7 linked regions of the Homo sapiens genome follow. The protein of the gene in region 5 purifies or fractionates together with the protein of the main gene of each other region. This does not show direct contact. Each region holds a gene or a part of one and is shown on either strand. Other genes may lie near its edges. The genes, in order: NUP50, APBA1, LIN7C, LIN7A, DLG1, KCNA5 and ZMYM1.

Region 1 (4,506 bases), on a different chromosome or scaffold from region 5:
ACGGGCTCCTACACTCATAGAGGGGACCATCTGGCTGCACTTGCCCCAAGTTAAATGTACTTAACTAAATGTAATCTTTCCACACATTTCATTGGCATATGTTCGAATGGGAGTTCTTTCATTCCTGAATATTTTAATGTCTAAGCAAATAGTTACATGGTAATCTAGATGTTACTATAGCCCAGAATGTAACTGTGCTTAAGATCTTAAACCAACAACAACAAAAAACCAAAAACCCCCATAACCAAAGATTTTAGTTAAAAAGCACCAAATCAGTTTTGACCCTGTCAAAACACTCACATCCTTGGGATTCTGGTTTCCCTAAACATATGTGAGGAGATACACTTGTAGAGAAAAAAAGTACTAGTACCAGAAAGATTCCAAAAGAAGGAAGATGGCCGTCTAAGAATAAGCTTGGAAACAGTTGCAGTTTTAACATTTTTCTTTTTTCACTTAGCACTATGCTGTTAACCTGAAAGTCGTGGTTACAGATTTCCTTAGTCATCTGGCCTGGGGGTAACACACTGCTGATAAGGTACGACTGTAGAGTCCAGCCCTACTGGGCTTTGCGGGTGTTCTCCTCGAAGGGGGAAACAGAGATTGTAAGAAATAAAGACACAAGACAAAGAGATAAAGAGAAAACAGCTGGGCCTGGGGGACTACTACCACCAAGACACGGAGACCGGCAGTGGCCCTGAATGGCTGGGCGTGCTGATATTTATTGCATACAAGACAAGGGAGCAGGGTGAGGAGGATGAGTCGTCCAGGGGATTGACAAGGTCAAGCAAGTCACGTGATCATGGGACAGGGGCCCTTCCCTTTTAGGTAGCTGAAGCAGAGAAGGAAGGCGGCGTACGTCAGCATTTTCTTCTATGCACTTATCAGAAAGATCAAAGACTTTAAAACTTTCACTATTTCTTCTACTGCTATCTACTAAGAACTTCAAAGAGGAACCAGGACTACGGGAGGAGCATGAATGTGGACAAGGAGTGTGACCACTGAAGCACAGCACCACAGGGAGGGGTTCAAGCCTCTGGATGACTACTGGCAAGCCTGGACAATATCCAATCTCCCACAAGAAGGTGGTGGAGCAGAGTGTTCCCTGACTCCTCCAAGTAAAGGAGACTCCCTTTCACGGTCTACTAAGTAACAGGTGCCTTCCCAGGCACTGGCGTTACCACTTGACCAAGGAGCCCTCAAGCGGCCCTTATGCGGGCGTGACAGAGGGCTGGCTCACCTCTTGCCTTCTAGGTCACTTCTCACAATGTCCCTTCAGCACCTGACCCTGTATCTGCCGGTTATTCCTTGGTTATATTAGTAGTACAACAAAGAGTAATATTAAAAGCTAATGACTAGTAATGTTTATACTAATGATTGATAATGCCCGTGATCATCTCTGTATCTAATTTGTATTATGACTATTCTTATTCTAACTATTTTATGTATTATACTGAAACAGTTTGTGCCTTCAGTCTCTTGCCTCGGCACCTGGGTAATCCTTCGCCCACATCCTATAAGTACAGCTGTGTTTTATTCTTTGTTTTTTAGACAGGGTCTCACCCTGTTGCCCAGGCTGGAGTGCAGTGGTGCAATCACAGGTCACAGCAGCCTTGAACTCCTGGGCTCAAGCAAACCTCCCGCCTCAGCTTCCCAAATTGCTGTGACTATAGGCTCATGCCACCATGTTCAGCTAATTAAAACAATTTTTTGGGGGGTTGGGTGCGGTGGTTCTCGCCTGTAATCCCAGCACTTTGGGAGGCCAAGGCGGGTGGATCACTTGAGGTCAGGAGTTTGAGACCAGTCTGACCAACATGGTGAATCCCTGTCTCTACTAAAAATACAAAAATTAGCTGGGTGTGGTGGTGTACACCTGTAATCCCAGCTACTCGGGAGGCTGAGGCAGGAGAATCACTTGAACCCGGGAGATAAAAGTTGCAGTGAGCCGAGGTTGTGCCACCGCACTCCAGCCTGGGCAACAGGGTGAGACTCTGTCTCAAAAAAAAAAAAAAAAAAAAATTTTTTTTATAGAGACCGGGATCTCTCTATGCTGCCCAGTCCTACTGTTTATAAGGGAAAAATGATCAGATTTCCTCAGGGGAGACCATTTTTATTCTGCTGGAAAAGGAACTAGGCCAATCTCAATTCTATTCCTATAAATGCAATTGTTAGGGGTCTCAGGTCTACCATTAAGAAAAGGAAATAAAGCAGGCCTCCAAGAAGCATTAGGGAAACGGAGTACCACAGACCAAGATGGTGATGGTGTACCACTTTCACATCTGGGCAGTGTGCTAAGTTCATGACTACATCACTTAACTCAGCCTTCAGTCATGACTAAAATGGCTTACTGCAAACATGGGTTCAGAATGCTTCAAGTATACGAAACTCAGGAGGAAAAGTGCTTCTACTAAGGAGAATATTTAAGGAGCAGGCACTAGTGGAAAAGCACATCTAAATGTAATTAATACATTTCTACACTAACTAGAGGTCACAGAAATGTAATTAATAAATATCTACACTAAGTACAGGTCATATAATTTCTTGTCATCTCCCATTCATGATGTTCTTAGAAAGGTCTTTTAGTTCTGTCACAAGTCTTCATGAGGAACCCCAAAATGAATGTAAAAGGCAAAAGAAACAGGAAATCATTCTTAGGGAAGCTGCTTTTTACCTCTTCAGCTTCATCTTCTTGATCCCAATTCCTATCTGTCAGTTCCTTCTCGGCATTTCTTTTGGCCATGTTTTCGAACCTAAGTTATAGAAAACAGAAGAGTTTATTTTTCTAGAAGAATAAATTCTTATAAAGAATTTTAAAAATTCACTCTAGCATGAAGTGAGATAAAAACATCTCTGGTTTTTTTATCAGGGAAAAAAAGCATCTGGAAACTGCTTTAATGAGAACTTTACATTGGTGCTGTTAGGCTCCCAGTGTTACAAATCAATAAAGGCTTTTTCCAGGAGGCAGAAGAAGATTCCTAGGGAACACCAGCAGTCCTGAACAACACTAAACCGACTCCATTTGGAAAAATTAAAATGAAATATCAATTGATTTTTTAAAAATCTGGAATCTGAAGTACTGTATATATAATCAAAAAGTCCTTAACTTATTCTACGCATATACATACTGAAAGTCTTGTCATAAAGAAAATAATTTTAATATTTAAAATTCTCTTAAAGATGACCCATTAAAGAAGTGTATCTTTCAGTAAGAATACGAATAACGGGCTGGAAACGCCTCCACAACACGAATACTGTTCTTTAAGCTACAGCCGACAGAGATACATGGTTCCCAAGACTGAACATTTTGTTGCTTCAAATTGTATATTGCCAAGACAATTAGAAGTCCAAAATGATTAACATGGGTGTGTTAGTATTCTGGGAACTTATAACCTTTCAAAAACAAATCATTGGCTTAACTCTTCAATACGATGGCATTAGTGGAAGGGGCAGGAGTTGGGGAACGGCGTGAACTCTGCAGTGGATTCCGGCACCTAACCAAAGAGGGTGCTCCTGTCCATCCCTTAAAATTTACGATTTGTTTTCTGATCTTAATATCATAACAACAAAACAAAGAAAACCCACAACCCAGAGCTCCGCTATGAGTGTTGTGCTGCCTTCTTCACTAACTCTCCAGCTGGACAAAAAACCTTTCCATTTCCCCTGCTACCCACCTCGCCCAAAAACTTACTGATTAGTTTTGGGGACCTGCCAGGTCTTGTTAAACCTGCCTGAACTCCTTCGTGATACTCTCCCCACTCTTGTTTGCTCTCAACACCACAATACACCAGAGTAAGCTTCCTTATTCTGGTGTATTGTGTAATACAGAGTGTATTACAACCCCACAAAGTGGTCGCTAAGATATGAGGTGACATATCACTCTTTAGTATCTAAAAGTAAAATGCAAATGCTGGTATTCCAAAGGCCTCTACAATTTGATGGCCAGTGGAGTAATTACATACGGGCTGTCAGCTTTTAATACATTTTAGTGATTTTTAAATTTTGTAAGTTTATGCTATTTTTCTGATTACAAATGATATTAAAGTCCAAGATTCTAAAATATAAAGGATGAGAAATAAATACACTTTCCATTCGCTGGGAACCCTCTCTTTTTAATGTCCACCCAAAAACACTTGGTTAAGTTTTGCCATTAATCTTTGTCATACAAACAAAAACAAATACAGGAATAGACATAATTCTTTACTGTGCAGAAACCAGGTCTCTGTACGGATTCTTTTTGGCAATTTTCCTACTCATTAACTAATGTCTCCACCAGAGGGTTGGAGAAGTAAGAAGTCACCAACGGTCACGTTTGCTATTTAAGATTAACTGTGGGGCCAGCGAAGTGCCTCACGCCTGTAATCCCAGCACTTTGGGAGGCCAAGGTGGGCAGATCACTTGAGGTCAGGAGTTTGAGACCAGCCTGGCCAACATGGTGAAACCCCGTCTCTACTAAAAATAAAAAAATTAGCTGGGCGTGGTGGTGGCACCTGTAATCCCAGCTACTCCGGA
Region 2 (4,506 bases), on a different chromosome or scaffold from region 5:
TATATAGAAATAGACACAAAGAATGTAAACAACCACAACAAAACAGGCAGGACCCCTATGATTTTGAGATCCCTATGGTAAATAGGCTCAACAGTATGTGTAAACTTGCTATTATGTTCTTTTGGAGAGCCTTTCTTACAAATGGACACAATGGATGGGAAGTGAACTCTTAAATATGATAACAGACAACCCCAGGAGGACCAGGGACATCTGATGGACTCTCTAGTAGTGAGATGCATTATATTCTACTCAACTCCCCATCACAACCACAGCAATTTCCTTCAAGCATTGATGACCATCCCAATAACAAAGGAGATCATTTTGGAGCTACCAAGTCCACATTCAAGCAGAAGTATCATGTCTTCCCCATTCTTTGATGGATCCACCCCTGACTGATTCTCGCTAGAAGAAAAGAATCACGGTTTACAAGAGATGAACAATCTTTATTGCTTCGCTACTTGACATAAGTCCCACTTGATACAAATTAGACCCAACCTCTTTTGAAAAATTTTGGGCTCCTCCCATTAACTCCTGAGAACAGCGACTGTGGACTAAGTATAAGAAAGTCTCCAAAAGCAAGTATGAATCTCCCTTCAAACCTTGATGGATGGTTAAGGCTGTAAACCAGCAGCAGGGTGGGGTGGGGAATGATTAGAAGCTGTTCCACCTCAGATCATGAGGCATTAGTTAGATTTTCATAAGAGTGCATGACCTAGATCCTTTGCATGTGCAGTTCACAATAGAGTTCATGCTCCAATACTGGTCCATGGCCCAGTGGTTGGGGACCCCTGCTCTAAACAGAAGCAGCAAGTGTTGCTGCTACGGGCCTCCAGTGGATTATAAGAAACACAAAACAAATATTCAATTCAATACAACACATGGACAAGAACATCATACCCAAGTTGCCTTCATAAGGACTTTCTCAAAAAGACAACAGATAAACCTTCATTAAATCTACATTGGGTTCTTAAGGTACAAATCTAATTCTAATAAACACAAAGTGAGCATTCACAGAAAGGGATAGCAAACATATCACAGACTTTCTTGGGTTCTGTTACCCAGAGGTGTCACAGTTGTGTGTGGTCAGCGTAAGAAAAACAGTAACAAAAACCACAGAAAGTACCTGAATGACCAACAATTCATGATAACCATATGTGGAACTGACCAAAATGCTGCCTTCAGGGAAAATGGCTGTTCTTTAGCTTGATGAAAATCTATTGACATATGTATTAAAAAGAAATTTTAGCTTATTCTGGGTTAAAATCGGTGAATGGTGCCCTCTTATAACCCATGTATTGATTCAAAGGAAATGGAACTTCCTTGCGTGTATATACACTAAACTGTGGTAAAGGAAGTTCTCTGGTGGGGCAGGGGGTGGTGGAAGATAGTGTTAATGTAGTTTTGGTACAATAGATCTTTTTGTTCACTAAGTACCTTCTCCTTATACCCCCATCCACAGACCTCACGGGAGTATTTACACATACAGTGTTTGTATTTTACACACCATCATGTTTCCAAGAATATGATTTGGGTTGTGGTATTGCAACATGTTAATGAATAACAGACATTGACTTTGGGGGTTTCCCTAGGACAAAAAGGCAATTGTCAACTTTTAAGGAAGGAGCCGAAGTTGATGCTTAGGTTTATCCCTACACACAAGAGGACTGTTCTCCATACGCTGGCAACTTTGGGAGTGGTATTTATAAAAAACATTTAAGCTGCTTTTTAAAAATCCTAGGTTATTGTGGGAGTATATTATTGGTACAAAATTTTTGAAAAGCAATTTGGCAAGATGAATTAAATTCTTCAAAAGGTAACATACCTTTTGCCCCAGTAATTCTACATATAGAAGTCTAAAAGAAAAAACTTGAATGTGGACAAAAATGTTTCTCACAGTATTTTCTTCAAAAGCAAAAATTTTAAACACCAAATATTAAGCGCTAATATTTATTAGGTACTGATAAGTACAATGCTAATCATATTAGGGTTATATTGTGATCAGAAAGATGTGGGGGTTTTCTCTCTGGGAAGCTCCACCTGGAGTTCCCATAACACTTCAACTCAGCCAGCCACAGCTGAAGAAATCACACCTCCTCACCTTCCCTACCCACCCTCGCTCTCAAACTGGGTTCCCTCCTGTATTTCCCATATGGGCAAATGGTACCACCAGCCACCCACTGAATCATCTCCTTCCCTTATCTCCCTCCTCAAACTGATGCCAGAGTCCACTGTCTTAATAACTCTTGGATCAGTCTTGCTGCCACTGCTTTGTCTTGGTCTGTCTTGACTACCTGGTTGTTTCCTTGACTCTGATTTATCAGCCCCCTCCAGTCCATCCTCCCCACTGCCAGCCTGATGATCTTTAAAAAATACAAATCTGAATCCCATAACCCTACTCCTCAAACTCTTCAGTGATTCCCTTCTAGGGCACAGTATAAATGCTTAGCTAACTATGTCCCAGGTACTACTAGGCATTTTCCACGTGACACATTTAACCTTCACACTAGCTAATGAAGAGTACTGCCATTATCAGCTCTTCTGAAAATGAAGAAACAAGTGATTAGAAAGGTTAGGTGATTGTCCCAGGTCACACATCTGGTAAGGGAGGCCCCCTGACATTTGATCTTTGCACTCTAGCTCTGGGGTCTGGGCTCTTGAGTCCTATTCCTGGCCAACAAAGACCTTGGGATGCTTCACCCCTTTAGTCCATCTCCACACTTCATCCCGCACCCTGCATTCTAACAGCCAAAGTCCTGGTGTTGGCCCTAACTGCCCTCCCTATTCATGGCATATTTTAACCTATAACTTTTCTTTGGTGAATCTTTCTTGTCTTCCCCAGGCCACATTCATACTTGATGAATGTTAATTAGGTGCCAGCCTCCAGGCACATTCGAGGCACTGGGGCAGAACAGTGAGCAAGCCAGAGGAGGCTTCCCTGCTTTCAGGAAGTCCCCATTCTAGTGCACTGGGTCGGGGGTCAGAGGGAAAAAAGGGCAGACAATAATTATGTAAGTAAGTAAACAAGATAACTTCATAGGGAAACATTTTATGAAGGTAATACAAAACAGAGTAACGCCATAGAAAATGACTGAGGAGAGGACATTATGTAGATATTATTCAAAGAATGAGATATTTGAGTTGAGGTCTGAATAATCAAGAAAGAGGTGGCCTTGTGAAGATCTGAGGGCAAGGGCTTTGAGGTGAGAAAGGATCAGCTGTGTTCAAGGACAGAAATAATGTTTGTAGGCAGGTGTGGCGTGAGTAAGGGACAGTGTGATGGGCGATGAGGACAAAGAGATGGAAAGGGGCTGAGTTGGGCAGGGTCTGGTACATCATGGTAAAGGATGTGGATTTTATTTCAAGTGTGGTGGCATGCTACTGGGGAGTTTAAGCAGGGGATTGATAAGGCCCAACTAAGCCTCCCTTTGTGCCCGCTGTGCTTTTTCTCTCTCTCCCTTTCCCTTTCTCTCTCCGTCTCACACATACTCACACCATTTTATACACACACACACACACACATATATAAATTATATATATATATATGTGTGTGTGTATATATATAAAATTTATCATGGCTTCTATCATTCTGAGTGGTAATTCTTTGTAAGTATCAAGTCCTTAAGAAAAAGATGTTTTGTCATGTATCTTTGATTTTCTGATGCCAAGCACAGAGGGTATACAGAAGGTGGTAAAGGAATTTTTAGTAACTGAAAAAGGAAAAATCTTTATCCCCCACCCCTCCCACCCAATAGTTGGGGCCTTATAGACTTCTAGACATTGGCATGATCAGCCTTTGGAGAAGAACTCATTTCTTCTTTCTATCTTAAATCTTTGCTGCCCTTATTCACTCATGCAAACTCCTTCAACTTCTTCTAATGCTTTAAGTGCCTAAAGAATGCAAATGATTCAACATTCTCCTGCATCTGAGTGTGTTAATCCAATGGGCATTTATCAGACATGTACCAGTCACTGTGCAAGGCAAAGGGGATGTAAAAGTTTCTAAACTATGGTTTAGGGCAGACAGCTCTGACAGTTATGATACCTGGTGATAAGTGCAAAATAGAAATATACTCAAGATACAAAAGCAGCCCAGAGTTAAAACAATGACAACAATTGTAACACCTTGTGACTCATATTAAGTGCTGCTGTTCTTATGGGTTCTGGATTTCATGAGCTAGTGAGCATCCTAAGCAAGCTTAGGAAAGAAGTGACATCATCTAATAAATGTCCTTGATGATGACCCATGTGCCTCTGGAGGAAGACAGAGGCAAATAGAGGAAGAGCGGCTGATGGAAGAAAATCTCTCTTCCTCTACAAAAAAGTTGGATGACCTGGAAGACACATGCAGAATAGTCCCCTCCTCAGGGACACCTGCAAAACATGAAGAAGGGGTGCTGTGGCATCCTGGCTACAGGATGAGGGTCTCCACGTTACCAGTGGTGAAGCACAGATGGCTTTCTGGTCTATGGTTCTAGAATGTTCCACAGCTTGGGTGGAAAAGGTGAA
Region 3 (3,858 bases), on a different chromosome or scaffold from region 5:
AGCAATTCATTATAGTAAAATCAGAATAATCAAAATAGTGAATATAACAAAACCCGAATAGAAAAATTTAGTGAATGGATACTCTGGTCTACTAAAGTTTTGAAAAAAACTGAGTCCTAACACTAAATGCTTTTTGTTGTTCCTCGGCTGTGTGGCACATTTCCACACTTTTTTAAAGTTAATGGTGGTGATGCCTTGGACTGTCTAACACCTAGTCCAGTAGTCTCCTGTCTCTATGCCTAGGTCATCACCTTAAAGGTTAATTTAACAAATCCTTACTTGGACTTATTTTCCAATGATTTTCATTAGAATATGGCTTCAATCCTCAAAGCTCCAATTTAAAAATTCCGAGTTTCTTTGATCAAAATATAAATTTGATAATTTCTTATGAATCTTATTCTTCTAAAGTTTTTAAGCATAAAGGTTGTTTTCTAAATACCAAAAATAAAAACTTGCTAATTTTAATTTTTTGACCAGAATTATTTCCTTTAGCTCATAAGGTTCTGAAGCTATTTTACATGAACAAAAGCAAACACAAACAGTATTTACTATGCCAGGCACCTTTTTAAGGGCCTTACAGAAAATGGCATGACACTTACAGGCATTCTTATTAACAAATGACAGGTGAGGGAACTAAGGCACAAAGAAATCAAGCAACCTGTCTAAGGTGACACACGGTAATGGTGGAACTGGGATTGAAACCAGAGTTGTTTGGCTTCAGAATCTGTGCTCTCAATCACGTCATACTGCCGCTCTTGAAATAACACAAGAAAATGTTTTCTTTAAATTTTATGAAAGACAAAGCAAAATATAGAAATTCAAAGTTTCATTTCAGCAGCCACCAGGAATTATGTTTTTTTATACATACCTTTCATAAACGTTATCTATTGTGTAGTTATATCAACTTTTTTCAAATCCAAAGAACGAGGACATAACTCATACAAATTTATTTTAAATAAGCCTTAAAATCAGAATTAAATTGATAAATGAAGTAATCTATTGAAAAATGTTATTTTACATCCATTCTGGGTATTACCACAAATTTTAAAAGTAGAAGCATAGCATTTGCCAGTTATTTTAAAAAACCGAGTCAATACAAATTAGTCTCAAAGTTCTTGAAAATTAATAAGTGATTTTTCTCACTACTTAACCATACCTGGAATAACCTTTGAAGAAACACTACTAGCAAACTTTAGACAACAATTATAAAACCAGATTGTTGGCAGAGGACACAACAAAATGTAAGTTAGAAAATTCATAAACATACATTTATTCAGGAAATACAATTACTAGAATCCTTGATATTTCAATGATCATTCCACATTATAAAATATTCACAAACATGTAGTTTTTTAAGTCTACACCAGGTCATGCTGACATTCTTTTTGGATAAGCCATAACCATTTCTTCTATTAAATGCTATAATATCCATTTTAATTGTAAACAAAGTACTTGAGCCAGACTACTTAAGTACTTGAGCAAAATAACTTAAAAAAATCTTAAGAGGAGGAGGACAATGATATTTTTTAAAAACATATTTGAGGCTGGGCATGGTGGCTCACGCCAGTAATTCCAGCACTTTGGGAGGCCGAGGCGGGCGAATCACGAGGTCAGGAGATCGAGATCATCCTGGCTAACACGGTGAAACCCCGTCTCTACTAAAAATACAAAAAAATTAGCCGGGAGAGGTGGCACACGCCTGTAGTCCTAGCTACTCGGGAGGCTGAGGCAGGAGAATTGCTTGAACTGCCTTGAGGTGGCGGAGGCTGAAGTGAGCCGAGATCACACCACTGCACGCCAGCCTGGGCAACAGAGCAAGACTCTGTCTCAAAAAAAAACAAAAACAAAAAACAAAAAAAAAATTTGAATCGTCAAATCCTAAAGAACTAGGCTGCTATTATCTAGTATTATACTAACAAATGAAGTGCCCACATTAAGACAGTACATAATTATTAACGACAATATTTCTCATCTGCAATTTTTAAACATGCTTTCTCAAATAACAAACACGTATTTTTGTAAGTTTTAAAGGCAAAGGGGGCAGAATGATGACAGACATAAAAAGCTCACATTTAAATTACTGGTAGATTTTATTAAAAAAAAGAAAAAAGAAAAAAAAAGATAAGACTGTAATTACTTCCCAAATAAGGAATGCCAAGTACCTTTTATTCCTAAAAGAAATTACTTGGCCAGGTGCAGTGGCTCACGCCTATAATCCTAATGCTTTGGGAGGCTGAGGTGGAAGCCAAGGAGTTTCAGGCTGCAGTGAGCTATGATCACACCACTGTGTTCCAGCCTGGGAGACAAAGCAAGATCCTGTCTCTTTTAAAACAAAAAACAAACAAACCAAAAAAAAAACAAAAAAAAAACCTAAGAAATGTAATTAATCATTAAGTAGCTGCAAATTGAACTGTTCTATTTTGATACTTCCTAAGAGTGTCCAGTGTAATCAGATCATTTTATAATGGGTTATTGACCCTAGGTGTCCTTTAGAACCACCTGGAAAGCTTTACAAAAAAAAAAAAAAGGGTGATTTTGATTTAGTTGTTATGGAATAGGACCCAGGTATCAATTTTTTAAAGCTCTGCCAGGCTAATATGTAGCTAAGATTGAGAATCACTAAGTCAACACATTTTGATATATCAAGAAAATAAATGGAAATGGGGGTGATAATTTATATTTGTAATTTACAAATCAAACATCTATCATACACTTACTATGTACCTAGTTTTATTCACGAATCATCCATTTCTAAGATAAAAATTCCCATCATTTCCTCACTGCACTAAACCACCACTGTACATCTTTGCCAATGAATGACTGTATTTTTCTATGGTCAAGATTTAAAATTCTGGGATACATTATGAAAACTGCATTAATGAAAACAACCTACTGCTATTCATGCTCAACAGTAGCAAGCTAAACTACTGTACTTGGCTCCTTTGAGCTACCCTTATTTTAAGAATTATAAATAGGTGTCAACCCACACAAAGAACAGATTGTGGATTACCGTAGGGAAAAAAATAGCTTACTCAACTTACTAAAAGTTTCAACACCAAAAAAGATTTAACTTGGCTGAAAGTTCTGAAACAGCTGAGACACAGAACCAGGAAGCTATAATTTATAATGAAATGTTGATACATACTTAAAAGCTACTGCAGCTGTAGCTATACTAAAATAAGATTTCTTCAGGGTTTACTTACCCTGAAATGCAAGAATACAAGCATAACAATAATATTACTGTTTTTATATGCACCAATACCTCTCTTTAATATATAAAGCTCTACAACAAATACCTCTAATAATTTTACAATTAAATTAAGTCCATACTTCTATACTACTTTGGTCTCAACATTTTTAAAACATCAATTAATTTTGAAAATTTACAATTTAACAACATGATCCTATCAATAACAAGCACATTTTGTAGTGGATTAAAGACACATTCAACCATGCAATCCAGTGTTCAATACCTTAATGATAAATAACAATGCTGATTGACTTTTATTTTGAAAAATCATTGAAAACTGGAATAATCATCTGAGACTCACAGTGATCACAAACATGCAGAAAAAAGCATACAATTCTATTCTTCCTGAAGGAATGTTACAAAATGCCCACTTTTTTATATAGGGTCAATATGCCAAATTACTTATATTTTTCAATCCATCATCTTCTAACATTTGTCACTTAAATTTTTCTTAAAGTACAAATGTTCCTGTAAGTTGTAACAGAAAATGAACCCCAACTCTTTCAGTCTTTAAGACCTCAGTCACAGTCCCACACTAATAGCTGCCTTTTAGTAAAATAGTGACATCCAGTGGACAAATGAAATATTTCTCAAATTCCCATATTTGA
Region 4 (4,506 bases), on a different chromosome or scaffold from region 5:
TCCTGACCTCAGGTGATGCGCGTGCCTCAGCCTCCCAAAGTGCTGGAATGACAAGCAAGAGCCACTGCACCCAGCCTGTTTTTTATTTGATAATTAAAAGTTACAAAGAGAATGACTCAAATCTCTAAAGCATTTTGGTTACAAAAATAAGAAATTTGGTGAATCCTTTCTAGTTTGGTGTGTCATTCATCCGAGCCCTGAAATGTATTTGGTGTGCTCCTGTCAGTTATGAAATTAATGCTCTTGCTTATGAGTGTTGTTTTTCAGGGATCACAACTAAGGCCTAGCTCTTAAGTAGAGGAAAGAAAACATCTAGGGAGTACTATCAAACAGGAAGGTGTCCTGGGTATTAGAGATGGTGTTATATGCACAATGCCAGTATCTCTTTGAGTTCTTTTCTTAAAGTCATGACATTTGCCTGTTAGGATATACTTTCCATCAGGTCAGAGACCATGTCGGGTTTGTTTATGTAGAACCCAGCACATTGTGTGGCACATAGTTGGCACGCTCTTTGTATTTGTTGATTGAATGAGTGAATGAATGAATAAAATTGGCTTAGCAAGACTTAGCTGTCATGGATTATTCTTAATGCAACAAAACAAAACAAAACAAAAGCCTTCTAACCTAAAATAATGAAAAGTAGTGGCTACCTTAGGATGTCACTTTGCCTCTCTGTGTATGTAGCTGGCTCCTACAAGTGTAGTGCTCTCAAGGGCCAAGAAAGAATGTGAGGTGTTGGTTTTGATAGTCATAGCCCTGTTTCAGTTGTCTGCATTTACCCTGCTGTTTTAACTTATGAATTGAATCGCACGAGCTAATGTCAGAATACAACTGAAAAGGTTTTTTAAATGGGTGGAGTTGCTATAGAATTGCCCCCCTCCACACACATATATATAAGCTACGCTTTTCAATTTTTTTAACCATAAATACATGAATGACAGAACTATGTCCTAATAAACAAATTAAAATGGATTTAACTTGAACTCACTCTGCACTACCAAATGTGAACTTAACCTTAAAAATTGTGTTAATTTCATCCATGCCTTAGTTCTGGTTTATTCAATTGAGATCTTTAAAAAAAAAGATTGAATTTTGCTAAGTAATATACTAACTGAATTCAAACACTTGTCCAATAAAAATAAATATGCCTGAAAACCACTTGAAAAAAATCATGAGGGATTGAAACTTATTTTGTAGTTATATTCAAGTATCTACCTATCTTGGACATAAAGCTAGGGTGTCTAATTTCCATTGATGGTAATTTTCCTTAGAAACAATATAGCTAGTCCAAGTCTAACTGTTTGTGCAACTTTTGTTTACTTGCCCAGTGTGGAGATAGTTATATTTCAATATAACATCTTTTGTTTTTAAATTAATCAAAGGATTACCTTTAACTAAAAAAAGATAGAATAATGGGAGTCACAACATGGCTATAAGATTTAAACCCACAAGATAGATGGAGAAACATAGCATGAAATCACAGCTGGGTCTATTTAACAATAATGAAGAAAAAATTGGGGAATATAGTTGAGGGACTGCTGAAAGTGATTTTTGAGGAAAATTGGAGAAGAGCAGTAATTGCTGATGGACAAATAACCTGGCTTCCAAAAAGATGACAAAGGTGTTTTGGGAAACTATAGGGCAATCTATTTGTTGCCTCTTGGCCCATATATATATTTTAAAATATATATAAAATGTGTGTGTGTGTGTACATATATATATTTAAAAGAATGAGATATTGGCACTTAGAAAAGAAAGTGGTGATCCCAGAGGCTACGTGGAAAATCACTAAGAGTAGACATTGCAGAAGTTCAGACATATGTCATAGTCTCATTATATATTCATGACCCCACAACTCTCACAGACACCTTGTGGAAAATGTGGAAATACATAAAGTGGATGATTGCATTGTTGGATTTCTAGTAGAAACACTTCTCCAAGGAAGTTTGGTTCATGGTCTTGTTTGGCACTGTTACCAATATTTTGAATGAGCACCATAGAATATATTTTAACAAACTTTACAGGTGACTAAGCTAGGAGGAATAACAAATAATTTGGCCAACCCTACCAATATTCTAAAATTATTCCTAGCTTGAATGGCAGGTTACAATAAAAGAGATAAAATTTAGAGGAAATGAATGTAGCCTTCATTTATTAGATTGAATCAAATTAGAATGCTGATTGCATATTGATTGTACTGGTGTCTGACTGGAATAATCTGGTTTAAGAGTATTTTATTTGGAAAAGATTGAGGACTTTATTTATTAGGTTGGTGCAAAAGTAATTGAGGTTTTTGCCATTGAAGGTAATATCAAAGACTGCAATTACTTTTGCACCAACATAATAATAAATTCATCATGAGCAGTGTGATTAAATTATCAAAATATTATAAAAACTCTCTGGAAAATTAAATATAAAACTAGTTAATATTAATAATGTAGAAAAACACTAATACAGCATACCCTAGCAGGGATTATTTAAAAGATATTAGAATAACTGTATTGGTATATTAATCATGTTAATAATAAGTTTTAAAACATGATGAAAATTAAACTCAATACAATACAAAAATTAACTCAAGATGGATTAAAGACTTAAATGTAAGACCTAAAATCATAAAAAACCCTAGAAGAAAACCTAGGCAATACCATTCAGGGCATAGGCATGGGCAAAGACTTCATGACTAAAACACCAAAAGCAAATGGCAACAAAAGCCAAAATAGACAAATGGGATCTACTTAAACTAAAGAGCTCCTGAACAGCAAAAGAAACTATCATCAGAGAGAACAGGCAACCTACAGAATGGGAGAAAATTTTTGCAATCTACCCATCTGACAAAAGACTAATATCCAGAATCTACAAAGAAACAAATTTACAAGAAAAAAACAAACAACCCCATCAAAAAATGGGAAAAAGATATGAACAGACATTCCTCAAAAGAAGACATTTATGCAGCCAACAGACACGTGAATGTCATCACTGGTCATCAGAGAAATGCAAATCAAATCCACAATGGGATGCCATCTCACACCAGTTAGAATGGCGATCATTAAAAAGTCAGGAAACAGATGCTGGAGAGGATGTGGAGAAATAGGAACACTTTTACACTCTTGGTGGGAGTGTAAATTGGTTCAACCATTGTGGAAGACAGTGTGGCGATCCCTCAAGGATCTAGAACTAGAAATGCTATTTGACCCAGCGATCCCATTACTGAGTATATATCCAAAGGATTATAAATCATGCTACTATAAAGACACATGCACATGTATGTTTATTGCAGCACTATTCACAACAGCAAAGACTTGGAACCAACCCAAATGTCCATCAATGATAGACTGGATTAAGAAAATGTGGCACATATACACCATGGAATACTATGCAGCCATAAAAAAGGATGAGTTGATGTCCTTTGCAGGGACATGGATGAAGCTGGAAACCATCATTCTCAGCAAACTATCACAAGGACAGAAAACCAAACACCGCATATTCTCACTCATAGATGGGAATTGAACAATGAGAACACATGGACACAGGGTGGGGAACATCACACAGCCAGGCCTGTGGGGAGGTGGGGGGATGGGGAGGGATAGCTTGAGGAGAAATACCTAATGTAAATGACGAGTTGACGGGTGCAGCAAACCAACGTGGCACATGTATACCTATGTAACAAACCTGCACATTGTGCACATGTACCCTAGAACTTAAAGTATAATTTTAAAAAAATGATGAAAAACAAATTCACAGTTAGCAGTTTTTCTCAACTGAGACACCATTGGTAGTTAGGGCGCTAAGTTTATTTGTCATATAAGAGGTTTGGTATCCTTAGTTCCCAGGAGCTAAATGCCAGCTTGAATCACACTGTGTTAACTGAAAATACCCAATGAATTTCCACATTCCCTTTTTAAAGGCAGTTCTATCCCATCTAGTTGAGAACCATCAGTGTCCAAAAAAGTAGGATAGTTCAACCTTAGAAAATAATTTACTGTGGCCGGGCGTGGTGGCTCACGCCTGCAATCCCAGCACTTTGGGAGGCCAAGGCGGGCAGATCACGAGGTCAGGAGCTCCAGACCACGGTGAAACCCCGTCTCTGCTAAAAATACAAAAAATTAGCTGGGCGCGGTGGCGGGCGCCTGTAGTCCCAGCTACTCGGGAGGCTGAGGCAGGTGAATCGCCTGAAGCCGGAAGGCGGAGCTTGCAATGAGCCGAGATCACGCCACTGCACTCCAGCCTGGGCGACGGAGCGAGACTCCGTCTCAAAAAAAAAAAAAAAAAAAAAAAAGAAAAAGAAAAGAAAATAGTTTACTGTAACTCTTTACACTAACAGATTAAAGGAGAAAAACCATATCATTTTAGTATATATTGATAAAGGCATGTGATGAAAGATAACATTAATATCTGATTAAAAAACAACTTTTAGTAATCTCTAAGTAGAGGACTTCCTTAACTTGACAAACACTAGGCATGAAATGCCGCCAATGTCAATTTTTTTTTTTTTTTTTTTTTTTT
Region 5 (4,506 bases):
AACATATGGATTTTACAATACAGTTTATTAGCTGTTCTCCTCTTCTTCATAAATGGAATGGATAATGTTGATAATTCTTTACAAACCAGTACTCATTTAAGAAACTAATGAGGAGGTTGTCAAAAACACATATTTAATAAACAACTCCAAAGAGCAATGGGAAGCCAAATATTATTATTAATATGAAGGACCAGAGAAACTGATTTGTGAAATAATTTCTACCTTTCACTAACATTTCTTAAAATTGCTCACCATGAAGATTTGTGCAATTCTAGTGCAGAGCAGTGGATGAAAGCTGTCTGAGGGGAAAACACACACATAAATGGGGCTTTTGCCTGCCTTCCTATTAATAAAAGGAGAACTAGAAGGAAAGGGCAAGGACCAAAATCAAACCTGATGACAAGAACAACAGTAACAACACGGACAACAACAAAAAACCTCAGGAACCATTTGAAAACCTTTGTAGAAAAGAGGAGAATATGCCCACACTTTTACTTATAATCTAATTTCCCTAAATGTTTCCTCCTCATGACCACCATGCCCCCATTTTCAGTTCACATGATTAAGGAAGATAAGTCTATTCAATTAATATTTAATTTAAAAACCAAACAAAAAGTTAGGAGTAGGTGGCAAAAGAAACAAAATATATTTTAAATATATATATATGTTTGTGTGTGTGCGCAACTATGTAAAGAAAATAATTCCCATAGTTACAGTTTAAAGAAAGTTTTATATATATATTTATATATATTTTATTATAACAAAATAGGCAGCTATTGTGGGTAAAATATTCAGTAAAATCTGACTCCTAAGAATACATTTGAAGTTTTAGGCTATGAATTGGACTCCTTTCCATTGCCATGATGGTTACTACGTCACCACTGTAACGTCTGATTTATCTGTATTTATATCTAGGAAATTTTCTCAATCTTCTGTGTAAAAGGCGAACTTCCTTAGCACCTGAACATGGCCTCAATTCACGAAATGTGATGATCATTTACATATGAACAACTTTTGTAAGACACGATAGTGTTGCTCAAGTAGATTAAAAACATTGAAACGTTGTTATTCCTAGCAAATGTCCTGGGAAAAAAGAACCGTCAAATACTAAAAGGCTTTAAGAATGTTGAGGAAAAAATGAAATCCCTTATGAAAGTCAACTCAGACATGAATTTTTAAATTAAAAAATGTCCTTATTTATCTATAATGAAACAATTGCTTTGATGATAGAAGTTGATTGAGAAAAGGACTTGAGAGTAATACACTGGCCAAACCATGCTATTAAACTGAAGCGTGCACAGTTGCTCAAAGTCTACTAAATCACTGATTAAAACCACTTTTTCATTTGTACTGAAATTTGAAAAGAATGTATATAAAGCTTTTCCAAAAATCTCTTAAAGTTACTTTCCCTTAAACATTAAGGAATTTTACCACAATTTCTGCGTCTCCCCACGTTCTTAATAGCTGGTCAGGCCATTCCATCTTCAGTTCTGAAAAATGGCCACTAACCAATAGTGACATTAAATAATACACACGATGTAACTTGAAGGAGACACTACATGTGAAAAAGAAGCTGCAGACCATGATGTGTGGGATACAATTCAACATGAAATCAGTACTCAAGAAAGACTCCAGAGGAAAGGGCAAAGAGATGCCAAAGAAAATGGAATTGTGGAAAAGAGAAACAGAGAAACATGAGTTTTCATAGCTTTTCTTTTGCCGGAACCCAGATGTAAGAACCAGATTGTTCTTCTATGATCTGTTTCACTTGGTTGTAAATGTCTTCCAGCGTATCCCCCTGTACAATAGCTGTAATGATAGAAACAAAATCAGAAATCTCCATTAATTGTCTATTTTTGCCATTACAATTATTGATGAAATAGTAGAAGCTAGTATCTTTGAAAAAGTTACTCATCCAGGAAGAATCACCATTTACACACTGTTCACTTAGGAAAAAAGGCTCACTTCATTAATTTTCCTATTTATATAGTATAAAATTTTTATCTTAAAAATGGATCAAAAAGTAAGACTTGGAGATCTTTTCTTTTGTTCTTTTACCATCTGAGCATATATTAGCTTTATTATTTTAAAACAAATTATTTTCTTAACTTTCCTGATTTCTCCATAAACATATGTAGAAAAAAGGAAACTGGGTACAATCCCATAGACAGGATGATGTAAGGATAATTTTTTTTTTTTTTGGGGTAGGATCTTGGGGGAAAAGAGCTGATTACAGATTGATACTACTTTTTTCAGTTAAGCTAGCATGTCAGGTACTGTAGTGTAGGTGAATTGAGAGATACCTAAGCTAGCTTGTTAGTGGTTAGAGACTTAACAATCAATGTTTATTTGCTGTCTGAAATAATGTGTGAAAAAAAGAGTAACAATTACTAACAACTAATTCTTTGGGAATAGCTGAAGCCCCTGAGGTCTGTGAGGGATTAGTTAATAAAGCAAACAAACAAACAAAAACAAAGTATCGCTAGACAGCACTAAGCATGAGTAACTAACTTTTTAAGAAAGAAAGAAAATGTTTATGGTTGGGCATGGTGGCTCATGCCTGCAATCCTAGCACTTTGGGAGGCTGAAGTGGGAGGGTTGCTTGAGGCTAGGAGTTTGAGATCAGCCTGGGGAACATAGTGAGACCCTGTGTATTTAAAAAAAAAAAAAAATAGCTGGGCATGGTGGTGTGTGTCTGTAATCCTGGCTACTTGGGAGGCTGAGACAGGAGGATGATCTCTTGAGCCCAGGAGTTCACAACTGCAGTGAGCTATGATCGTACCATTGGATTGTACCATTTGCCTGGGTGACAGAGTGGAACCTTGTGTCTCGTAAAAAAGTTTACATATAAATGAAATAATTGAGAATTGCAAATTAAATAAGTCACTTACTAAACTACAAAAAAATGCCCAGTGATCTTGGAAGAGCATCATAGGTGTAGATTTCCATGGTCTGAAAAACTGAGCATAAAATGTCAAAGGGGGATTTTAAATAATACTGTCTATTTGGTACCTGAGATGATGTGCATAGAAGAAAGACGTTGTATGTAGGTAGGAAGCACTTATACATAGCTAGGAACGCCTGAATAACCAAGAATTTTCAGTAACATGATATTCGCTAGTATCAGTTTTGTGAGACTTCTACCTTTTGAGCTAAATGCAGACATGCCTCAATGTCCCTGAAGACTCAGTTCATTTGACAAAATACTTGGTTCGTGGGTTTGGCATCTTGATGCACCCCAACAGCACAGGACAGAATCCCAGAGCATTTCATAGTTTAGGTTGACAACAGCACGCAAGGATTTATTTTAGAGCATTTCATAGTTTAGGTTGACAACAGCACGCAAGGATTTATTTTAGGAGAAAACAGTCAGGAACTGACTTGGGAAATATACATTTTGCTTACTTTGTAAATTCATTAATGGAATGGTTAGTAAACCAGGGAAACTGGGAAAGCATAAGGCTGCAGACACCTTAACCATGTGATTAAAATTAGCATCATAAGTAACGGCACAAGTAGACTTTGTAAACCTCCTTGCATGATACACAGAGGACACATCATTACTTCATTGCTATTCCTGCCCCAAATGCAGAACCTAAATCGAATTATGAGAAAACATCAGATAAATCCAAATTGAGGGAGGGACATTTTATAAAAGAATGGGTCTTTGGCCGGGTGCAGTGGCTCACGCCTGTAGTCCCACCACTTTGGGAGGTCAAGGTGAAGGTGGGCGGATTGGATGAGTTTGAGACCAGCCTGGGCAACATGGCGAAATCCTGTCTCTACAAAAAATACAAAAATTAGCTGGGCATGTTGGCTGTAGCCTGTAGTCCCAGCTCCTTGGGAGGCTGAGGTGGGAGGATCACTTGAGCCTGGGAGGTGGAGGTTCCAGTGAACTGAGATCGCACCATTGCACTCCAGCCTGGGTGACAGAGTGAGACCCTGGCTCAAAAAAAAACAAAAGACAAAAAACAAAACGAAACAAAAAACAAAACGAAACAAAAAACAACAAAAAATCCCCCCTAGTGTTTTTACTCTTAAAAAATGTCAGTCAGGGTCATGAATAACAAGACTTGGGAACGATTTCAGATTAAAGAACATTAAGGATGTGATAATCCAATACAGCACGTGAGCCTCCGCTGGATCCTGCACCAGAACAGAAAAACCATTTTTTTCCATTTTGCTCTAAAGAGATTAGAAGAATAGTGAAATACTAATAAGATCTATAGTTAGATGAGACATATAATTATTAAATTTCCTGATTTTGATAATAAAACTATGATTCTATAAGGGAATATCCCTGTTTTTTAGAAAATACACACTGAAATATTTAGAAGTAAAGGGACATCTACCTGAAACTTACTCTCAAGTGTATCAGAAAAAAACCTATAAATGTGGTAAAATGTTAACACTTGAGGAATTTGGGTGAAGGGTACATGAAACTCCCTGTACTATTCTTGTAACTTCTATTTAAGTCTGAAATTAGTTTGAAAAAAATAAGAAAGC
Region 6 (5,287 bases), on a different chromosome or scaffold from region 5:
GACTGCTTCATGTCTGTGAGAATCAGGCTTGCTTTTCTCAGAGCTGCTGAGAGCCACCCTGAGGAGGGCTGAAAACCTGCAAACAAAGGAATGAAAGCCAGTGCCGGGAGACCCAATAAGACTGTCAGGGGTCTGATCCCCTTTTTCCTTTAAGTGCCCTCCCTACTCCAGGCTGACCATAAGGGCTGATACTACTGCTTCAGAGAGCATCTCACAGGGGCGTCCGTGCCATAAACAGCCTGGACAAAATTCACCCACCATTGTCTATGAGGCACCAAGGGGTGCACTGAAAAGACGTCGCCAAGCAAATCATGAGCTTTTCAGATTTCCTCTAACCCCAGTCAATGCGTTTGCTCTGATGTCAAAACCAGAAACAGCCAGTGACAGACTATTTTTAAAAATTTCAGAAAATGTATCAGCTGCAGAAAAACTAACACTTGCCTCAACAAGGTAACCTTTTATTTCCTGGGATAAAAATAAAGACAATAAATTATCAGAAGTATTCCTCCAATATCATTAAAATGCTTTTTGAAGAAAGTTACAAGAATTGTTTAAGGCGCACAGAAAAAGTCAGATTTGCCTTTCTTCAAGAACATACTCTGCCCTAGACACAAAGCACCAATACCACATCCCAGAAAAGACAGAGGCTTGGAGACACAGGAAACAGAACAGCCCATACCAAGATCTCTGACTCTAATATAAGTAACACAGAAAAACATCAGGACAACTCTTTCTTCCATAAATACAACATGTATCTTGAAAATATACCCAAAATATCTCTATCTGAACTACAGTACAAAAAGCCACTTACCAGGCATAAAAATAATATTTTCCCCTATACACAAATACAATCATATGTAAAGCAAATTTGGAACACATGGATGGAGGAGTTACATAATCTCTTGGGATCTGGGCTATTTAGAGTCATTTTTGTTTGGGTTATCCCTCTGCTGGGTATAGGAGACTGGCTACAAATACATCCATCTCACAGCGCTCACCATTTCCACAGCTCCTGCGTCATGGAATGTGGTACTTTTTAAAAATAGGCGACCCTTGGGTGTCATGGAAAGAATAGAGAAAATGGGGGGATCGAGGGAGGGAGGAAAGGAGTGAAAGGAGAGGGGTAGACTGAGGTTACAGTGTGACTTCAAATACTCTGCGGTATAATGTAGATATCCATGTTCAGCAAGCCTCCCATTCCCTACTCCACTGCCACCAGTCTGCCTGAATCTCCTTTCACAAATCTGTTTCCCGGCTGGTGTCCAGGCAGAGGGCATAAAGGGACCTCCGCAAGTCCACGTTGCTCTTGGCCTTGACGTTACACTTCTCTAGGGGGCAGCTGCCCCTTCGGGCACTGTCTGCATTCTCCAGGGTCCCCCCAGCCTTGCAGAAGGATCCCCTGCTCCCGCTGACCTTCCGCTGGACTCCTCTGTCCAGCCCCGGCCCCTGGCTCTGAGTGCCCTGCTCTTCCTTAAGGACTGCCGGCTCCTCGTGATCCGTTTCCCGGTGGTAGAAGTAGTTGAAGTTGGAGACGATGACGGGCACAGGCAGGGCAATGGTGAGGACCCCGGCGATGGCACACAGCGAGCCCACGATCTTGCCCCCAACAGTGATGGGCCTCATGTCCCCGTAGCCCACAGTGGTCATGGTGACCACTGCCCACCAGAAGGCGTCAGGGATGCTAGAGAAATGGGTTCCCTGGTTGTCAGCCTCTGCGAAGTAGACGGCACTGGAGAAGAGGATGACCCCGATGAAGAGGAAGAAGATGAGCAGCCCCAGCTCCCTCATGGAGGCCTGCAAGGTCTTGCCCAGGATCTGCAGCCCCTTGGAGTGGCGGGAGAGCTTGAAGATGCGGAACACCCGGACCAGGCGGATGACTCGGAGGATGGCCAGGGACATGGCCTGCTGCCCATTCTGGCCGCCTCCTCCACCCCCTGGCTGCTGCTCTGCCAGTTCGGTGCCCAGGGTGATGAAGTAGGGGAAGATGGCCACCACATCGATGATGTTCATGATGTTCCGGGAGAACCCTGCCTTGCTGGGGCAGGCGAAGAAGCGCACGAGCAGCTCGAAGGTGAACCAGATGACGCACGTGGTCTCCACGATGAAGAAGGGGTCGGCCAGGGTCCTGGGCAGGAGCGGTGCCACCGTAGGGCCAGAGGGCGGGGCCATGACCCCGCTGCCGTTGGCCCCAGGGGCGGGCGCGGGAGGCTGGTGGGGCGCCGGAGGGTGGCGGAGCAGCTCACGTTCATCCCTGAACTCAGGCAGGGTCTCCAAGCAGAAGGTGATGATGGAGATGAGGATAACCAAGACCGAGACGATGGCGATGGCCCGCGCGGACCCAGAGCTCTCCGGATACTCGAAGATAAGCCACACCTGGCGCTGGAACTCGTTGCGGGGCAGGGGCTTCTCCTCTTCTTTAATGAAGCCCTCATCCTCGCGGAAGCGCTCCATGGCCTCGTCCCCCAGCTGGTAGAAGCGTATCTCGTCCGCGAACACGTCCAGGGAGACGTTGACCGGCCTCCGCAGGCGGCCCCCGGACTGGTAGTAGTAGAGGATACCGTCGAAGCTGGGCCGGTTGCGGTCGAAGAAGTACTCGTTCCTCAGGGGGTCGAAGTAGCGCAGGCGCTTGGCGGGGTCCCCCAGGAGTGTGTTGGGGAACTGCGCCAGGGTGCCCAGCTGCGTCTCAAAGCGCAGCCCGGAGATGTTGATGTGGACGCGCTGGTGGTGCAGGGACGCCGTGCCCAGAGCCTGGTCCTCCACCGTGCCCAGGCCGGGATCGCCTTCTTCCTCCTCGTCCTCGGGAGGCGGCCGTCGAGGCCGTGGCAGCTCCTCTGGCAGCGGAGGCAAGGGCCGCACTCCCGGGTCCGGCAGCGGAGGCAAGGGCCGCACTCCCGAGTCCGCGTCTCTCTGCGCGCCGCGCCCCTTTGGCGCCGGCTCCTTGGGCCCATCGCTGAGCCCAGCCGTCGGGGGACACTGGAGCTCTCCCCCTGTGGCCTGGCCGCAGCCTGCCCGGGCCTCATCGCCTCCTCTGACGGTCATGGCACCGCCGTTCTCCAGGGGCACCAGGGCGATCTCCATGGCGCGGGAGCAGAGGGCATGCTGCGCCCCAGCTGACCGGCTCCCGCGCCCCCTACTCACGCTCCGCGGGCGCCTGGCGTCAGGCTCCGCTCCAGCGGTCGGCCGGCCCCTCTCTGGGGAGAGCTGGGGTTGCTGGCGCGATCCCCTCGCTTGGCCCTGACGTCAAGAAGCCGCTGCCCTGCTCTCTGCCTCTCTCTCTTCTGGCAGCCCGTTACCAAGCAGCCGAAAAGCCTCCTTCCAGCAGATGCAACCTTCAGCCGCCCCTCTCTGGCTGCGCCGCGCTTGGCCTCCACCCTCGGCGCCTCCCCCGCCTTCCCCTCCTCTCCCCCTCCTCCCGCTTCCCCTCCCGGGTCTCGTGGCAGCGGGTGTCTCCCCGGAGGGCGCAGCTGGGGCCCCTAGCAAGGGAAAGGAGGGGCTGAGAAGGGTGCAGCCCAGCGGAGGGAGGGAAGGAGTGGGGAGGATGGAGGAACAGGTTGTACCGACAGCGCTGAAATTCCCAGGGCAACCAGATGAGAATAGCTCTGGATTTCAGTTCACCTGGGAACCCGCTGGAAGCCGAGTGGACTCCAGGAGGAACGAAGTGCCTTGGGCTAAAGGGACGAGGCTTTGAGCTGAGTCGGAGTATGAGAGACAGAGACGGGAGACACCAGTCCTTTTTATTTTGGAGAAATAACGGTATTTCTTTGGGAAGGATTACAGAAGGGAGGGGGGCCACGTAGTTACGGACCTTGAAATACATGTATCAATGGAGAAGCATCTCTCTTCCCGTCTTCCTACAGATCCACAAAAATGTACAAGGGGGTTGGAACCCTGCAGGATTCCCATGCCCTAGCCTGTTTCCAGTACAGACCTGGTGGCAGCCCAGGCAAGCAGCCTAGTCAGGAGATGAGCTGTCTGGTCTCAACCCAGCAGAACCCCTCCACCCGCTCCAACGAATCCCATTTGCAAAAACCACAGCAGGGAAGGGGAGAAGCGATTTTTACAATCCTGGTGAGGGCTAATCCTGCCTGGTGAATCTTGGACCGAGCAACTGCATCTAGGTCCATGAAGGAGACTGAGGGTGGAGGTGGCTTATGAGAGGGAGCCAGGGAGGTTGTCCAATCTCCAAGGCTGGAGCATTCCCAAGAATGGAATAATAACAACCAATACTTACTTGGCTCTCATTATGCACCAGCCCACTCTCAGCACTTTACAAATATTGTCTCTGTGTATTCCTACAGCAACCTATTTTGTAAGTACTATTATCATCACCATTTTATAAATGAAGAAACTGAGGCACAGAGAGATTGACAGACTCACCCAGGCTTATGCAGGTGGAAACTGATGATGCTGGAACTCAAACTCAAACAATCAGAGTTTGGCCCTTGTCCCCTATATTTCACTCCTCTATAGAAATGCATAATCCCTTTTCCTGATACAAGCACTCCCTCACTCCAACATCTGGCCTGAGAACTTTAGTTCCCTGCTGCAGAAGGCAGGATGATGGCTGATATAACATATTAATCTTTCTAGGTTGGGACACTAGGAAATCTTCCCCTGCCCTGTCTCAACCCCTGCAGGGTTTTAGCAGGCATTGGTAACCAAGAGGAATCTGTTTCAAGGTGTGTGTCTGGAACTGCCAGACACAGTCTCCAGAAGTTTCTTGGTTTTAAATTATCATAAAGTGGCTGTGTTTTTGAATGTCTGTTTTCATTGTCTATTTTTGTTTCTGCATATTGCTTCAGATTTATATGCGTGAAGTTAGGACCTCTTGTCAATGAATGTCTCTATCCAAAGGGTGTGATTTGGAAACTTGGTCCTGGGTGCACAAGTGTGTGTTGCAATAGCAGCGCATAGACACACAAACTTGGGTCAAGGTTTGAGAAGTATGTGTGCATATGGCTTTTTAAGAGTTTATATGTGAAGGTGGATGTGAATTTGGTGTGCGTAAGTATTTTCATTCTGTGTGACTGTGCATATTGTTGGCTGTCTTTGCAGACGTGCATGAGTGAGGAAGGGTATGAACATGAAAATCAGTATGTGAAGGCATCACTGGTTAACCACAGGGCCTTGCATCCCCTTTCCCCATATCTGTGCCATCCCTGCTTCATCTCCAGTGGGCTTTCATTCTTCTCTGGCTCTGAGGTTGCCAGTCAGGATCAGGTATTTTTCCTGGGGAGCCTGGGACTTACTGAGCTTGCAGACAGTGAGGTCAGAGACCCATGACAGT
Region 7 (3,993 bases), on a different chromosome or scaffold from region 5:
TTAGTAGAGACGGGATTTCACTATGTTGGCCAGGCTGGTCTCGAACTCCTGACCTCAGGTGATCTGCCTGCTTTGGCCTCCCAAAGTGCTGGGATTACATGCATGAGCCACTGCACCTGGCCTTACTGCTTTCATAGGTATTATTATTATTGCTGTTAAATATATCTGATAAATAATAAAAATCATTTTCAGATTTGCCAATATTCTTTTAGTTATTGCAATCTGTAGTGTCTTTTTAAGAAAATGTAAAAACTGTCTTAATTGTTATTCTTTTTAATATTCCAACTAAAAGCAGTGGTAATAGGTTCTTCTTCATTAACAACATATCATATACCAGGAATATGAATATTATTTTAATCTCTAAACAGAAACCTGCCAAACCACTTATATCTGTTCCTTGCAAACCATTGAAGCCCTCAGATGAAATGATTGAGACTACGAGTGATTTGGGGAAGACAGAGCTTTTCTGCTCTATTAATTGTTTCTCTGCATACAGTAAAGCTAAGATGGAATCTTCTTCAGGTAATGTTTGTTTAGCAATTGTAGGGGTTTAGTAATTATTAATAAATAATATTATTTGACTTTAATTTATAACCTTGATTCATTTTCAAATTAAACCGACTTTTAAAAGTCAAAACAATCTAAACTTGTTGCAAAGAACTGTTTTTCAGTATTTTTGTATAAAAGGAAGGCTACTTTACCACCAGAGATTTAATATTTGTAGGCCAAGCACGGTGGCTCATGCCTGTATTCCCAGCACTTTGGGAGGCCAAAGTGGGCAGATCGCCTGAGGTCAGGAGTTTGAGACCAGCCTGGGCAACATGTTGAAACCCCGTCTCTACTAAAAATACAAAAAAAATTAGCTGGGCGTGTTGGTGGGTCCCTGTAGTCCCAGCTACTTAGGAGGCTGAGACAGGAGAATCATTTGAACCTGGGTGGTGGAGGTTGCAGTGAGCCGAGATCGCACCATTGCACTCCAGTCTGGGTGACAGAGTGAGACTCCATCTCAAAAATAATAATAATAAAAATTAAAAGATACATGTCTTTTTTTAGATTATTTAGTAAATGAATATATGTATGTTTACATCAATATATATTGAGCACCTACTGCAAAACATGGTACATAGGAGGCACTTGGTCAATATAGAGTTTAATACATTTACAAGACTGCTTTTATTAGAATATAGAATGTTTTACTTAGCCCTGTTTTGTAAAAACAAGTTTTCATTACATTTTTCACATGAAATAGAAGTGATTGTAAATGCTTTAAGACTCAATAATAAAAAAGCACAAATAATCTGAGCCAACTAAGTATTCCATCAAAAAGCCTCATGTAGGACCAGTGGTGCTATTTACATAGACCATAGAGTGACTAATGCCTCTGGGATTTGTAAGTCATACAAACTGGCTTGTTACAGAAATTTCTGCAATAGTGGCTTGGGCACCAACCTAGCGCTCCATTGATGTTAAGGTTTATGAATCCTGGAAGAGTTTGAAATAGATGCCCATTAGGAGATTCAATCAGAATCTCTTTTCTTCATGAGTAATTTCACAGAAAAATTTGCTCATAATTTTAAACAAATTCTTTAAAAGGACTGGGAAATTGTGTACAAAGGTAAAAGACATAAAATGTTGGAGAAGTGTAAATTTTCAGTGTAATGTTGTAATTATAAATACGATACTAAAGAACCTGGCTATTCCTAAGCCCTAATAAAAATTACTTCAGTACCTACCAATTCCTTAAGCTATTAGATGCTTGCATTATTTCTTTAAACAGTATTACTAAACAGTACTTTCTGATGATTGATTTTGCCTTGTTTATAAGAAATCTTTTTATTGTTGTCAGTAAGTGTTGTTTCTGTGGTGCATGATACTTCAACAGAGCTTCTTTCTCCAAAGAAAGATACGACTCCAGTTATAAGCAATATAGTGTCATTGGCAGACACCGATGTTGCCTTGCCCATCATGAACACTGATGTCTTACAAGGTAAAAGTTGATGTTAAGATATTTGACATAAATATTGTTTTGTCATACTTGATAAATCTGTCTATATGCTAAATTTTCTTTTTGTTTCTTATATGAAATAAGCAAATATAGTTTATGATGCTATTTTATAGGTTATAGTATATAAGATCTTGAATTTATGCTCTATTTTAACAGATACAGTTTCTTCAGTAACAGCAACAGCAGATGTCATTGTGGATGTAAGTTTTAACTTTTTTTACCACTGTCTTTTTTTAATAAGCAGATTTTTGTTGTTGTTGTTGTTGAGACAGAGTCTCGCTCTGCCACCCAAGCTGGAGTGCAGTGGCGTGATCTCAGCTCACTGCAACCTTTGCCTCCTGGGTTCAAGCGATTCTCCTGCCTCAGCCTCCTGAGTAGCTGGGATTACCAGCGCCTGCTACCATGCCCAGTTAATTTTTGTATTTTTAGTAGAGAAGGGGTTTCACCATGTTGGCCAACCTGGTCTCGAACTGCTGGCCTCAGGTGATCCGCCCACCTTGGCCTCCCAAAGTGCTGGGATTACAGGCATGAGCCACCACACCTGGCCCAGATTTTTTATATATATATATAATATATACTATAATATATAAAAATATAAATATATAATATAAATATATTATAATATATTGTATATAATATAAATATATTATAATGTATATTTATTATATATTATATTTATATATTTAATATATATTTTATGTATTATGTATTCATATATGGGGTGTGTGTGTATGTTTGTAGATTGTTTAAACAGAAGTATTTTTTTCCTCTGGGTTCTTCTTTTAAAAAAATACTACACAATTTGAGTCATCTGAGCAATAAAAATTATTTTTATGACAATTACATACCAAAAGGTCCTTCAAACATTTAATGCTGAATCTAGATTGCAAATAAATAAGTTATACGTAATTGTTAACGTTTCCCCCTAGTGGAGCTCATACTGTAACTCAGCCATTTATTTTACTATGTTATTAGAGTAGATATATTTGATATTTTAATTAATTTTTGAAAACTGTTAAATGTTCTTTTCTCATTTTCTCCCAAAGCTTTCTAAGAGTTCACCTAGTGAACCCAGTAATGCTGTTGCTAGTAGTAGTACGGAACAGCCAAGCGTTTCACCATCTTCATCAGTATTCAGTCAGCATGCAATTGGTTCCAGTACAGAAGTACAAAAAGACAATATGAAATCTATGAAAATAAGTGATGAACTATGTCACCCAAAATGTACATCCAAAGTACAAAAAGTTAAAGGTAAATCACGAAGTATTAAAAAATCTTGTTGTGCAGATTTTGAGTGTTTGGAAAACAGTAAAAAAGATGTGGCATTCTGTTATTCATGCCAGTTGTTCTGCCAAAAATATTTTAGCTGTGGAAGAGAGTCATTTGCAACCCACGGAACTTCTAATTGGAAAAAAACCCTGGAAAAATTCAGAAAGCATGAAAAAAGTGAAATGCATTTGAAGTCATTGGAATTTTGGAGAGAATACCAATTTTGTGATGGAGCTGTCAGTGACGATTTATCTATTCATTCGAAACAGATTGAGGGAAATAAAAAGTACCTAAAGCTTATAATTGAAAATATTTTATTTCTTGGAAAGCAGTGTTTACCCTTAAGAGGAAACGACCAGTCAGTTTCATCTGTGAATAAAGGCAATTTTTTAGAATTGTTAGAAATGAGAGCAAAAGATAAAGGAGAAGAAACATTTCGACTTATGAATTCACAAGTTGACTTCTATAACAGTACACAAATTCAAAGTGATATTATCGAAATAATAAAGACTGAAATGTTGCAGGATATTGTGAATGAGATCAATGACTCCTCAGCATTTTCAATCATATGTGATGAGACAATCAATAGTGCCATGAAAGAACAGCTTTCAATTTGTGTAAGATACCCACAAAAATCATCAAAGGCTATCTTAATTAAGGAAAGATTCTTGGGTTTTGTTGATACTGAGGAGATGACTGGGACCCACTTACATAGGACT

Evidence for each region.
Region 1: the proteins of DLG1 (region 5) and NUP50 fractionate together in Homo sapiens (co-fractionation; one large-scale study listed by BioGRID). This does not show direct contact.
Region 2: the proteins of DLG1 (region 5) and APBA1 purify together in Homo sapiens (affinity purification with western blotting; 2 studies listed by BioGRID and IntAct, with this or other methods). This does not show direct contact.
Region 3: the proteins of DLG1 (region 5) and LIN7C purify together in Homo sapiens (affinity purification with mass spectrometry; 6 studies listed by BioGRID and IntAct, with this or other methods). This does not show direct contact.
Region 4: the proteins of DLG1 (region 5) and LIN7A purify together in Homo sapiens (affinity purification with western blotting; 2 studies listed by BioGRID and IntAct, with this or other methods). This does not show direct contact.
Region 6: the proteins of DLG1 (region 5) and KCNA5 purify together in Homo sapiens (affinity purification with western blotting; 2 studies listed by BioGRID). This does not show direct contact.
Region 7: the proteins of DLG1 (region 5) and ZMYM1 purify together in Homo sapiens (co-immunoprecipitation; one large-scale study listed by IntAct). This does not show direct contact.

What each region holds. Positions count from the first base shown.
Region 1 is NC_000022.11:45,166,409-45,170,914, reverse strand, and holds part of NUP50 (nuclear pore complex protein Nup50), read right to left. Parts: exon of another isoform or gene 4,485-4,506; intron 2,750-4,484; exon of another isoform or gene 2,748-2,749; 5' UTR 2,738-2,747; coding exon 2,669-2,737; intron 1-2,668. UniProt on the Homo sapiens protein: Component of the nuclear pore complex that has a direct role in nuclear protein import. Actively displaces NLSs from importin-alpha, and facilitates disassembly of the importin-alpha:beta-cargo complex and importin recycling.
Region 2 is NC_000009.12:69,518,569-69,523,074, forward strand, and holds part of APBA1 (amyloid-beta A4 precursor protein-binding family A member 1), read right to left. Parts: intron 1-4,506. UniProt on the Homo sapiens protein: Putative function in synaptic vesicle exocytosis by binding to Munc18-1, an essential component of the synaptic vesicle exocytotic machinery. May modulate processing of the amyloid-beta precursor protein (APP) and hence formation of APP-beta.
Region 3 is NC_000011.10:27,493,644-27,497,501, forward strand, and holds the end of LIN7C (protein lin-7 homolog C), read right to left. Parts: 3' UTR 775-3,858; downstream 1-774. UniProt on the Homo sapiens protein: Plays a role in establishing and maintaining the asymmetric distribution of channels and receptors at the plasma membrane of polarized cells.
Region 4 is NC_000012.12:80,926,929-80,931,434, reverse strand, and holds part of LIN7A (protein lin-7 homolog A), read left to right. Parts: intron 1-4,506. UniProt on the Homo sapiens protein: Plays a role in establishing and maintaining the asymmetric distribution of channels and receptors at the plasma membrane of polarized cells.
Region 5 is NC_000003.12:197,042,921-197,047,426, forward strand, and holds part of DLG1 (disks large homolog 1), read right to left. Parts: intron 1,810-4,506; coding exon 1,703-1,809; 3' UTR 1-1,702. UniProt on the Homo sapiens protein: Essential multidomain scaffolding protein required for normal development. Recruits channels, receptors and signaling molecules to discrete plasma membrane domains in polarized cells.
Region 6 is NC_000012.12:5,041,939-5,047,225, reverse strand, and holds KCNA5 (potassium voltage-gated channel subfamily A member 5), read right to left. Parts: upstream 3,348-5,287; 5' UTR 3,079-3,347; coding exon 1,237-3,078; 3' UTR 438-1,236; downstream 1-437. UniProt on the Homo sapiens protein: Voltage-gated potassium channel that mediates transmembrane potassium transport in excitable membranes. Forms tetrameric potassium-selective channels through which potassium ions pass in accordance with their electrochemical gradient.
Region 7 is NC_000001.11:35,109,926-35,113,918, forward strand, and holds part of ZMYM1 (zinc finger MYM-type protein 1), read left to right. Parts: intron 1-368; coding exon 369-522; intron 523-1,846; coding exon 1,847-1,987; intron 1,988-2,161; coding exon 2,162-2,205; intron 2,206-3,051; coding exon 3,052-3,993.